3 linked regions of the Homo sapiens genome follow. Changing the gene in region 3 together with the main gene of any one other region gives a genetic interaction. Each region holds a gene or a part of one and is shown on either strand. Other genes may lie near its edges. The genes, in order: MASTL, LIAS and TCOF1.

Evidence for each region.
Region 1: changes in TCOF1 (region 3) and MASTL together harm fitness more than expected from each alone (negative genetic interaction), as found in Homo sapiens cells (one large-scale study listed by BioGRID).
Region 2: changes in TCOF1 (region 3) and LIAS together harm fitness more than expected from each alone (negative genetic interaction), as found in Homo sapiens cells (one large-scale study listed by BioGRID).

What each region holds. Positions count from the first base shown.
Region 1 is NC_000010.11:27,161,846-27,165,503, reverse strand, and holds part of MASTL (serine/threonine-protein kinase greatwall), read right to left. Parts: intron 441-3,658; coding exon 334-440; intron 116-333; coding exon 1-115. UniProt on the Homo sapiens protein: Serine/threonine kinase that plays a key role in M phase by acting as a regulator of mitosis entry and maintenance.
Region 2 is NC_000004.12:39,468,938-39,472,595, reverse strand, and holds part of LIAS (lipoyl synthase, mitochondrial isoform 1 precursor), read right to left. Parts: intron 2,578-3,658; coding exon 2,432-2,577; intron 1,361-2,431; coding exon 1,290-1,360; intron 1-1,289. UniProt on the Homo sapiens protein: Catalyzes the radical-mediated insertion of two sulfur atoms into the C-6 and C-8 positions of the octanoyl moiety bound to the lipoyl domains of lipoate-dependent enzymes, thereby converting the octanoylated domains into lipoylated derivatives.
Region 3 is NC_000005.10:150,395,678-150,398,383, reverse strand, and holds part of TCOF1 (treacle protein), read right to left. Parts: intron 2,103-2,706; coding exon 1,542-2,102; intron 31-1,541; coding exon 1-30.

The sequences.
Region 1 (3,658 bases), on a different chromosome or scaffold from region 3:
CCTTTTGATCTACAGACATAGGGCATACGAGTCCTTGAGAAAGCTGTGATGTTTCAGACAGACAGGCTGAAAGGATGTTTGCAGGGTCTTGATTTTTTTCTGCAATTGGTGTGTTCTATTAAAAAGAGAAAAATAAAAACAACAGGTTTACCTTCCCCAAAACACCACCTAAGTACATAGACTGTTATACCACCTAAGTAGACAAACTGTTAAAGTAAATCCAAATGCTTGATATTTAAATCTATTTTGATCTTTTTTTTTAAAGGTGATTTTAAATTTTAAGTGGTGATCATGAAGGGGTATGTCATGTTAATTTTCTTCTCAAGTACTTACAAATCCCAACGAGCTGATAAGCGATAACACTTGTCCTGGGGTTCTTGAATAATCTTGTCTAGGTTTTGCCATTGATGGTGTTGTAAGGATATCCATCATATTAATATCTATGTATGCAAAGAAAAGTATATAAATGTATTTAAAACCTTTACCTCCCATTGACTAAAAATGAATGTTATGTATATGACAACAAAACAATTTTTTGTAAACCAAATGTTAAAAAAGGAGACAGTGGCTGGGCACGGTGGCTCACACCTATAATGCCAGCACCTTGGGAGGCTGAGGCAGATGGATCACTTGAGGTCAGGAGTTCGAGACCAGCCTGGCCAACATGGTGAAACACTGTCTCTACTAAAAATACAAAAAGTAGCTGGTCTTGGTGGTGGGCGCCTGTAATCTCAGGTACTCGGGAGGCTGAGGCAGGAGAATCACTTGAACACGGGAGGCGGAGGTTGCAGTGAGCCGAGATCGCGCTACTGCACTCCGACCAGGGCGACAGAGCAAAACTCTATCTCAAAAACTAAATAAATAAATAAGGAGATGGTATGGAATCAATATTAATTTTAGGCCCCTCACGTTAGCTAATATGTTTAAGCCTAGGTCAAGATAGAAACTGACCCAGATTATTAGCATGTTTCAGTGCATAATATTTTAAAATAATTCAACACTGACACATAATACTATACTATTCCACTTAGATATAAAAAATGGTAAGAGAAGTCTAATGTTCTTATCCAGGCATGGTGGCTCACATCTGTAATCCTAGCACTTTGGGAAGCCAAATGGAGAGGATCCCATGAGCCCAGGAGTTTGAAACCAGCTTGGGCAACATAGTGAGACCTATCTCTACAATTTAAAAACTAGCTGGGCATTGTGGCAAGCACCTGTAGTCCCAGCTACTGGGGAGGCTGAGGTGGGAGAATTGCTTTTCCCAGGAGTTCAAGGCTACAGTAAGCTATGATCACATCACTGCACTCCAGCCTGGGTAATACAGTGAGACCCTGTCTCTTAAACAAACAAAAATAATCCCAGAACTCTAATGTTCTTATAGGACTTTTTAAAATTAGCTGGGTGTGGTGGCTCATGCCTCTAGTCCCAGCTACTCGGAAGGCTGAGGGACAAGAATCGCTTGAGCCTGGGAGGCAGAGGTTGTAGTGAGCCTAGATCATGCCACTGTACTCTGTACTCCAGCCTGGGTGACAGAGCAAGACTCTCTCTCAAAATAAATAAATGAATGAATAGGCTGGGCGCGGTGGTTCACGCCTGTAATCCCAACACTTTGGGAGTCCAGGGCGGGTGGATCACGAGGTCAGGAGATCAAGACCATCCTGGCTAACATGGTGAAACCTCATCTCTACTAAAAATACAAAAAATTAGCCGGGCGTGGTGGTGGGTGCCTGTAGTCCCAGCTACTCAGGAGACTGAGGCAGGAGAATGGCGTGAACCCAGGAGGTAGAGCTTGCAGTGAACTTAGATTGTGCCCCTGCACTCCAGCACTCCAGCCCGGGCAACAAAGCGAGACTCTGTCTCAAAGAAAAAAAAAAAAAACAAATAAGTAAATAAATGAAAGTATACTGAAAGTTTTAACAACAAATGTCATTTATGCCTCACATTGATGAAGTGATAATAATAATACACGTATATGATATTTTACAAAAAAAGTTTTATTAAAATTAGACCCTTATGATAAACAAAGTGACTTAAATTTATCAACAATTTTATCTTAATGCAAAATTTTTGTCATTTGTGATATTTTCCAATAGCTTATCTGAAATCCTTAGAATCAGATTTCGAAATAAGATTTCAAAGTCAGATTTCTTTGAAATCACAATTCAAAAATGTTTAGATTTTAGAAAAGTAATGTGGTAAATATACTGCATATTATGAAATATCCCTAGTGGCAAATCATATGAATAATCACATGAACTGGAATCAACAGACTATAAATACCCCTGGCCAGGCACGGTGGCTCATGCCTGTAATCCTAGCACTTTGGGAGGCCGAGGCGGGTGAACCACCTGAGGTCAGGAGCTCGAGACCAGCCTGGCCAACATGGTGAAACTGTGTCTCTACTAAAAATACAAAAATTAGCTGGGCGTGGTGGCGGGCACCTATAATCCCAGCTACTCAGAAGGCTGAGGCAGGAGAATTGCTTGAACCCGGGAGGTGGATGTTGTAGTGAGCCGAGATCACGCCATTGCACTCCAGCCTGGGCAACAGAGCAAAAACCCCATCCCAAAACAAACAAACAAACAAAAGACTATAAATACCCCTACATCAGCATAGATCAGATTTTACCAAACTTAGTAAAAAGTTTTAGGTATTCATAACTGTTGAACTTTGTACTTCCACATGAAGAATTGTAGATCTGCATATATTTTCAAATATTAATAGTTATAATTCCAGAGTTTTTAAGTCCAATTTCTGGTTATTTTCATTATTAATACTTTCCCATCCGTCTACACTTTCTAATAGAGAATACAATATGTTTCTTTTTTTTTCGAGATGGAGTATCGCTCTGTCCCCCAGGCTAGAGTGCAGTGTCGTGATCTTGGCTCACTGCAACCTCTGCCTCCCAGGTTTAAGCAATTCTCCTGCCTCAGCCTACTAAGTAGCTGGGACTACAGGCGTGTGCCACCACACTCAGCTAATTTTTGTATTTTTAGTAGAGATGGGGTTTCATCAGGTTGGCCAGGCTAGTCTAGAACTCCTGACCTCAACCTCAAGTGATCTACCCGCCTCGGCCTCCCAGAGTGCTGGGATTACAGGCATGAGCCACGGCACCCGGCCAAGAATACAATATGTTTCTAAGTTGATAATCAATCATTTATCCATGTTTCTATGATGAACTTAAGTAATTTCTAGTTTCTCCCTATTAGAAACAATGTTGCTACAAGTGATTTCATTTATGTGTATTTTGTTCATTTGAACAATTTCCTTAGAATAAATTCCAAAGCATAAGCCACTAGATCAAAGAGAATTAAAAACTTTTATATTTAAAAACATATTGGCAGATTTCCTCCAGAAAGCACTATGCTAATTTACAATGCCCCCAGAAAAATATTAGTGTGCTTTTTTGGTAGTATTACTAACTGGACCATCGGTATTCCTTTCTTTTGCCCATTTAATAGTGTAAGATGGTTCATTTACTCTTTCTTATATTAGCATTTATTTAATTACTACTAGTGAAAAGAACACAGTCCCATATATACATATATGTGTTAACTGTGTATTCATTTTCTTTGTCCTTTTGTTGATCAAGGTCTTAGTGGTGGCCGTGTATATTTGAATATGTTTTCAGTTATTAACCCTTCATCATGTTATA
Region 2 (3,658 bases), on a different chromosome or scaffold from region 3:
AACATAACAAAAACAAGTTACACAATAACCAAGTGTAAATGAGTGCCATTTCCCAACTTTTAAATTCTTTTTCTCTAGGTTCACTTGAGTTGTGAAATTTGTGAAGAGAATGGGGGAGGCAGCAAATATGTGCAAACGTAGCTGATTTATGTAGATAATAAAATGAAAACTGGGACTTATAAGAATACAGCTGAGCCTTGAACAACATGGTAACTGCACAGGCCCACTTATACAAGGATTTTCTTCCATTTCTGCCACCCCTGAGACAGCATGACTAACTCCTCCTCTTCTCCCTTGTCCTCATCTACATGAAGATGATGAGGATGAAGACCTTTATGATGGTCCACTTCCACTTAATGACTAGTAAATATATTTTCTTTTCCTTATGATTTTCTTCAAAAAATTTTTTCTCTAGCTGACTTTATCATAAGAATAAGATGTGTATATATGTGTGTGTGTGTGTGTGTGTGTATATGTGTGTGTGTATATACAGATATACACACACACATACGTATATATATAAGTACATGTAACATACAAAATGTGTGTTAATTGACTGTTATTGGTATGGCTTCCGGTCAACAGAAGGCTATTAGTAGTTATGTTTTTTTGGGAGTCAAAAGCTATACATGGGCTGGGCGCAGTGGCTCACACCTGTAATCCCAGCACTTTGGAAGGCTGAGGCGGGTGGATCACCTAAGGTCAGGAGTTCAAGACTAGCCTGGCCAAAATGATGAAACCCCATCTCTATTAAAAATATAAAAAATTGGCTGGGTGCGGTGGCTCACGCCTGTAATCCTAGCGCTTTGGGAGGCCGAAGCGGGTGGATTGCCTGAGCTCTCAGGAGTTCGAGACCAGCCTGGGCAACATGGCAAAATCTTGTCTCTAAAACTACAAAAAAATTAGTCGGGTGTGGTAGTGTGTGCCTGTAATCCCAGCTACTCAGGAGGCTGAAGCATGAAAATCATTTGAACCTGGGAGGTGGAGGTTGCAGTGAGCCGAGATTGCCCCACTGCACTCCAGCCTGGGCGACAGAGCGAGACTCCGTCTCAAAAAAAAAAAAAAAAAAAAAAAAAAATTATATATATGTATATTTTAGCCGGATGTAGTGGCACCCGCCTGTAGTCCCAGCTGCTCAGGAGGGTGAGGCAGGAGAATCACCTGAACCCAGGAAGCAGAGATTACAGTGAGCCGAGATTGTGCCACTACACTCCAGCTCAGGCGACAAGAGCAAAACTCCATCTTTAAAAATAAAAAAAAAAAAAAAAAGCAAATCAAGATACATGTACCTTAAGGTGACGCCTTGTTGGCTGCATATATTGTCCTAAAGTCAAGCAGTCTACATCTGCCTCACGAAGTGCTGTAGGAAGAAAAGCACAAATTACATTAGCAAATACTTTAATTGTAGATCTAAGCATAATTTTCCTAAGGAATATTTAAAAACGGTGTGAACTTTATGACAGTCCATAATCTTCATGTTGGGGAATAAGACAACATCTATTCATTCAAAAGTATTATGTGCCAGGGACTGTGGTAAGGACTGAAAACAATAATAATTAAGACAGTCATGTAGGGCTGATACATACAAGGATAAATACTTCTAATACTATGGAATCAATGCTAAAATAGTAGTGGAGGGTATTTTAGAGTAGGAGTCTGGTAGAAAAGGTATGGGAAATGGTATATGCAAAAACCTCAATGCACCTATATTATAGAGCAAATATGTTGCATTAGGCTTTTACTCAATGCACAAGATATGCTATGGGGGCTGTGATTTAAACTATGACATATCAGAATCTTTCTAATAAACTGTGTGCAATGTGGTAAACAGCAGGTCTTGATTATTATATGAACTTATTACTCTTTGAACCACTAAATAACTACAAGTAGTCCAAGGGTCCTCAGCTAAAATTAAAACTTTGAAATTCCAAAGTTTAAAAAGTCCAAGAATCACAAAGCAAATGGACTTACGGGACTAAAGTTCAGCAAAGTCCAAAGCACACCATGTTATGTGACAATGCTACAAGTAAGCTCTTTCTCAGAGGCCTGGATTAGTCTCATTGATCTATGAACTGTCAGTGCCTGGTACCAGGCTGGCTCTCCAAAAGTGTCCAATGATAGAATGAGAAAAGTGGATGAAATCATGCTTTCAGTGGATGCAAAGGATGGGGAATAAAATGGGATATAAATTTTGTATCCTGAGCGTCATGCATATCACTCCATGAAATTCCAAGAAAATTTATTTCCTTTGCTTTTTTTTTTTTAACTTGTATTTTAGATTTGAGGGTGCATGTGCAAGTTGGTTTCCTTTTCATGCTGCCATCTATAACCATATACTTTTCTTTGTTCTTAGAAGGGCCTTCAAAGTGAGTGGGTTCCTGCTATTACTCAAATTACATGGGAAAGATTTTTCATTTTTCAATTTCTTTACCTTTCATTGTTGCATATACTTGCTCATCATTCTCGCCTAAACCCAACATTATAGATGTTTTAGAAATAACATCAGGCTGAACCTTCTTGGCATGTTTCAGTACACGTAGGGACTGATCAAAATTGGCCCGAGGATCACGAACCTTACTGGAAAACAGCAGGACTGTTGTCAGCAAGAATTACAAGTTCAACCAAGTACATAGTTATGCAAGCAACCTGAAAGACCAGAGAAGTACATTCTGCACATTATCTTAAATCACATAGTTCAAAGGTAGCATTTATGCACAGATGCCTGTTAATTTAGGAAAGAAAAGGCCTCACTGGGCTCCCTAGTTCTATCTCAAGCCTGGGGCAGAGAAAAGTAGAATGGAAGAAATTACTTCAGTTTATGCATTGAGAAACCAGAATTCTGAAGCGAAAAATTAGAAGAGAAAGGAAAAAAAGCAGAAGTAAGAGAGTCTCCATACTGAACAAAGAAAAAAATAAGCTGAACCCACATGTCAGAGGGTTGAAACTTTCAAGTTCATTTCTTTTCTGAAGACTAAGCTGCCCTCTGCTGGTAAGTATACAACACTGCCACATATTAGGTAAAGAAATGCATGATTCTGGAATTTTCACTGGAAAGGATCATGTTTTTAAGTGAAACCAGGGAAACTGGCACCCACTGGTGGTGGTATCATGATGAGGTTGGAACAGGCTGTGTCCTAGACTTCAACAATGGCCAAACCACCATGGCTTAAATGACTTATCCTTTAAGCCAAAAGGCCAGAAAGCTTCTGATGTTAAACTGGATTTCATTTCAATTCTAATGCAGCTTTATTTTCTGTAATTGTTTTTCATTGGAGACTAGTTAACAGGAAAGAGAAGAAACAAATTTATGAACTTAAAAGTAACTGAAACTGACATTATAGAAATCACTTTTTAACAGAATTTCTCCACTGAAATTAAGTTATGGTCTCTACTGTTTATGATTTAGTGAAAATGGTGGTTATTGTTTACTGTAACTTCTTTCAGGCTCTATGACACAGATCATATGTAGAAGCTAATAAAATCACTGCTAAATGCTAAAATTAAAGAAAAAAATGATATTACTCTTGCCCGAAGCTTAAAATGTTCATTTTTCTAAAATTTGAATGGATGTGGATAACAATCCTTACTTTTTTTCTTACATCAGTGTTACTTGCCAATGATTAGTCTTAATTACTGAAATTATTAGGAATAAGAAAGC
Region 3 (2,706 bases):
TCTTTTCTTTTTTTTCTTTGTCTTTTTTTCCTAAGGGAAGTAAAGTAAAGTTCCTGAACAACAGATGGTAATCCTAAGTGCTGGGGTCAATGTTGGGAGGTGCACAGGGCAGGGCTCCCAGCTTTCCCCACACCACCAGAAGCCATCACAACAGGCCAGCAGGGCGGGGCGTGGAGGTTCATTCCTGCAATCCCAGCACTTTGGGAGGCTGAGGCGGGTGGATTGCTTAAGCCCAGGAGTTCAAGACCAGCTTGGGCAACATAGTGAGACCTGTCTCTACAAAAAATACAAAAATTAGCTGGGGATGGTGGTGCACGCCTGTGGTCCCAGCTATTTGGGGGGCTGAAGCAAGAGGATCGCTTGAGCTTGGGAGGCTGAGCCTGCAGTGAGCTGCGTTCCTGACACTGAACTCCAGCCTGGGTGACAGAGCAAGACCCTGTCTCAAAAAATAAAAATAAAACAGGCTGGCAGCTGTGGTGATCACCCAGCAGGGCCAGTTCACCTGCCCCCTGGAGGCCAGCTCATGATTTCTGTCCCATCCATGGACCACCTGGATGACTACCATTTTTCTTTAGCTCAACTCACTTTTTAAAACTCCCGCAAATTTATTTTAAATGGACACTATCTATCCCTACTGTAAATGGAAATCTAGCACAGTTCTGAGCACCAAGGGGCTGCAAGTCCTGCTCTGAGGGTGCCCGACTTTTGTTCCAGAACGAGCTGGCTCTTCGGGCGTCACTGGCAACCCACCGTCCAGGGCGATGCTCGAGAGTGCTGCCTAGGTTTGACTCTGGCTCCACCTAGCAAAACTCTGTGGCCCTGAACAGCATCTCTACTTCTCCGAGCCCGAGCCGCAGTTTTCTACCTGCTGAGTCTCATTTCTACCTAAATGAGGTCCTGCTGCATGCGGAGTCTAGAACAGCACTCAGTAAAGGGCCAGTGTTACTATGGAGGGAAAACTGAGGTCTAGAGACAAGATGGGGTTTGGGATGAGGATTCTGACAGTCTGGTTCCTGGTCCATTCTGCACCCAGGAGCTGGCTGGAGAAGCAGGTTCCTCCAAGATCTGCTGCACTGGGCTTGGGGAAAGAGGACATGACTCCTCGTCCTTCTGGAGCATTCCTGGCAGTGCTGACTCAAGTGCTCTGGAATCGAGTTCGGGCTTTGCCACAAGCTGCCCCTGTGACTCTGGACAAACCACTTCTCAGCCTTTTTTTTTTTTTTTTTTTTTGACAGTCTTGCTCTGTCACCCAGGCTGGAGTGCAATGCGTGATCTCGGCTCACTGCAAGCTCTGCCTCCCGGGTTCAAACAATTCTCCTGCCTCAGCCTCCCATGTAGCTGAGATTACAGGTGCCCGCCACCACATCCAGCTAATTTTTTGTATTTTTAGTAGAGACGGGGTTTTGCCATGTTGGCCAGGCTGGTCTCAGCCTCTCTTTTCTACATGGGAGGAATGAGACCAGGTGCTGGCTGAGGGTCCCTCCCGCCCCCGTGGGGTGCCCAGCAGCCCTTGGGGTGGGCTGGGAGAAGCGGTCACTCACTCTTGTCGGATTTCTTCTTCTCCTTCTTGCTCTTTGGGTTGCTTTGATCTCCACCTTCAACCGTCCCCATCCCCTTCTGAAGCTCCTCTTCTGGCTCGTCCTTGGCCCCTTGGGAGCCAAGAGACCCCTTCCCTTTCTTCTCCTTGACATCACCACTTGCTTTGTCTCTCTTTGCTTTCCCCTTGGAAGTCGTGGAGGTCTTTTCTGGGGAAACAGAGGCCTCCCCACCTTCCCCGGCCCCCAGCTTCTTCTTCTTCTTGCTCCTGGGGGTCCTGGCAGCTGGCTGGTCTCCCGATAGCTTCCGCTTGCGGCTCTCCCAGCCCTTCCTGCTGCTCTCCTTGGTGGTGTCCACCACCTTCTTTCTTTCCTGTTCCAGCAGCTCAGTCAGGACCTTCACCACTGAGGCCTGCACCTGGGCCTCATTCAGGGGCCAGGGTTGGCCCAGGAGGCACTGGGTGATGTTGCTTTGCAGCGCCAGGGTTGAGGCTTGGGGGTTCCCAGCCCCTTTCTTGGGCTTCCGGGACTTCTGAGGTGTGGTGCCTGAAGCAGCCTCTTTTCCACCTATGGAGAGAGAATGTGGGGTCACAGATCTGGGAGAGTTGGGGGACAGATCTTATGGTACCTAAGAGCGAAGAGGGTGCAGGGAGTGACTCCATCTTTTCTTACAATGGCACAGATGGGGAGAGCAAGGCTTGGCGGTCACTCTGCCCCAGCTGGTCTCCTAAGCTCACACCTTTCCACCAATTTCACACCCTGACTTCATTTCTAACTTACAGCTTTTCCCTGTCTCTTTATACTAAAAACTCCAGTTAGGGTGGGGGACAGAAAATGACTCCAGAATGTTAATGAAAGGGCCTGAAATCTATCAATGGAATGAAAATTCAGAAAGGAGGGAGATGGAGTCTGGAGCTGGGAGGAAGGAGACCTGGGTTCTAGGTCTGACTTTCCCACCCACTTTCAGTGTGATTCTGGCCAGGACCCATCTCCTCCCAGGGCCTTGGTTTCCCTGTCTATAACGTGAGGGGTGGATGAACAGTAAGGCTTCCTATGATACATTGTAGATTTATAATAAAAGTGGGGGCCATGCAGACATTCAACTGATGATTACCCACACTCGGCCCTTCCTGGTCAGGGGGTCCAGGCAAGGTGGGGAGCTCTGGGTGCA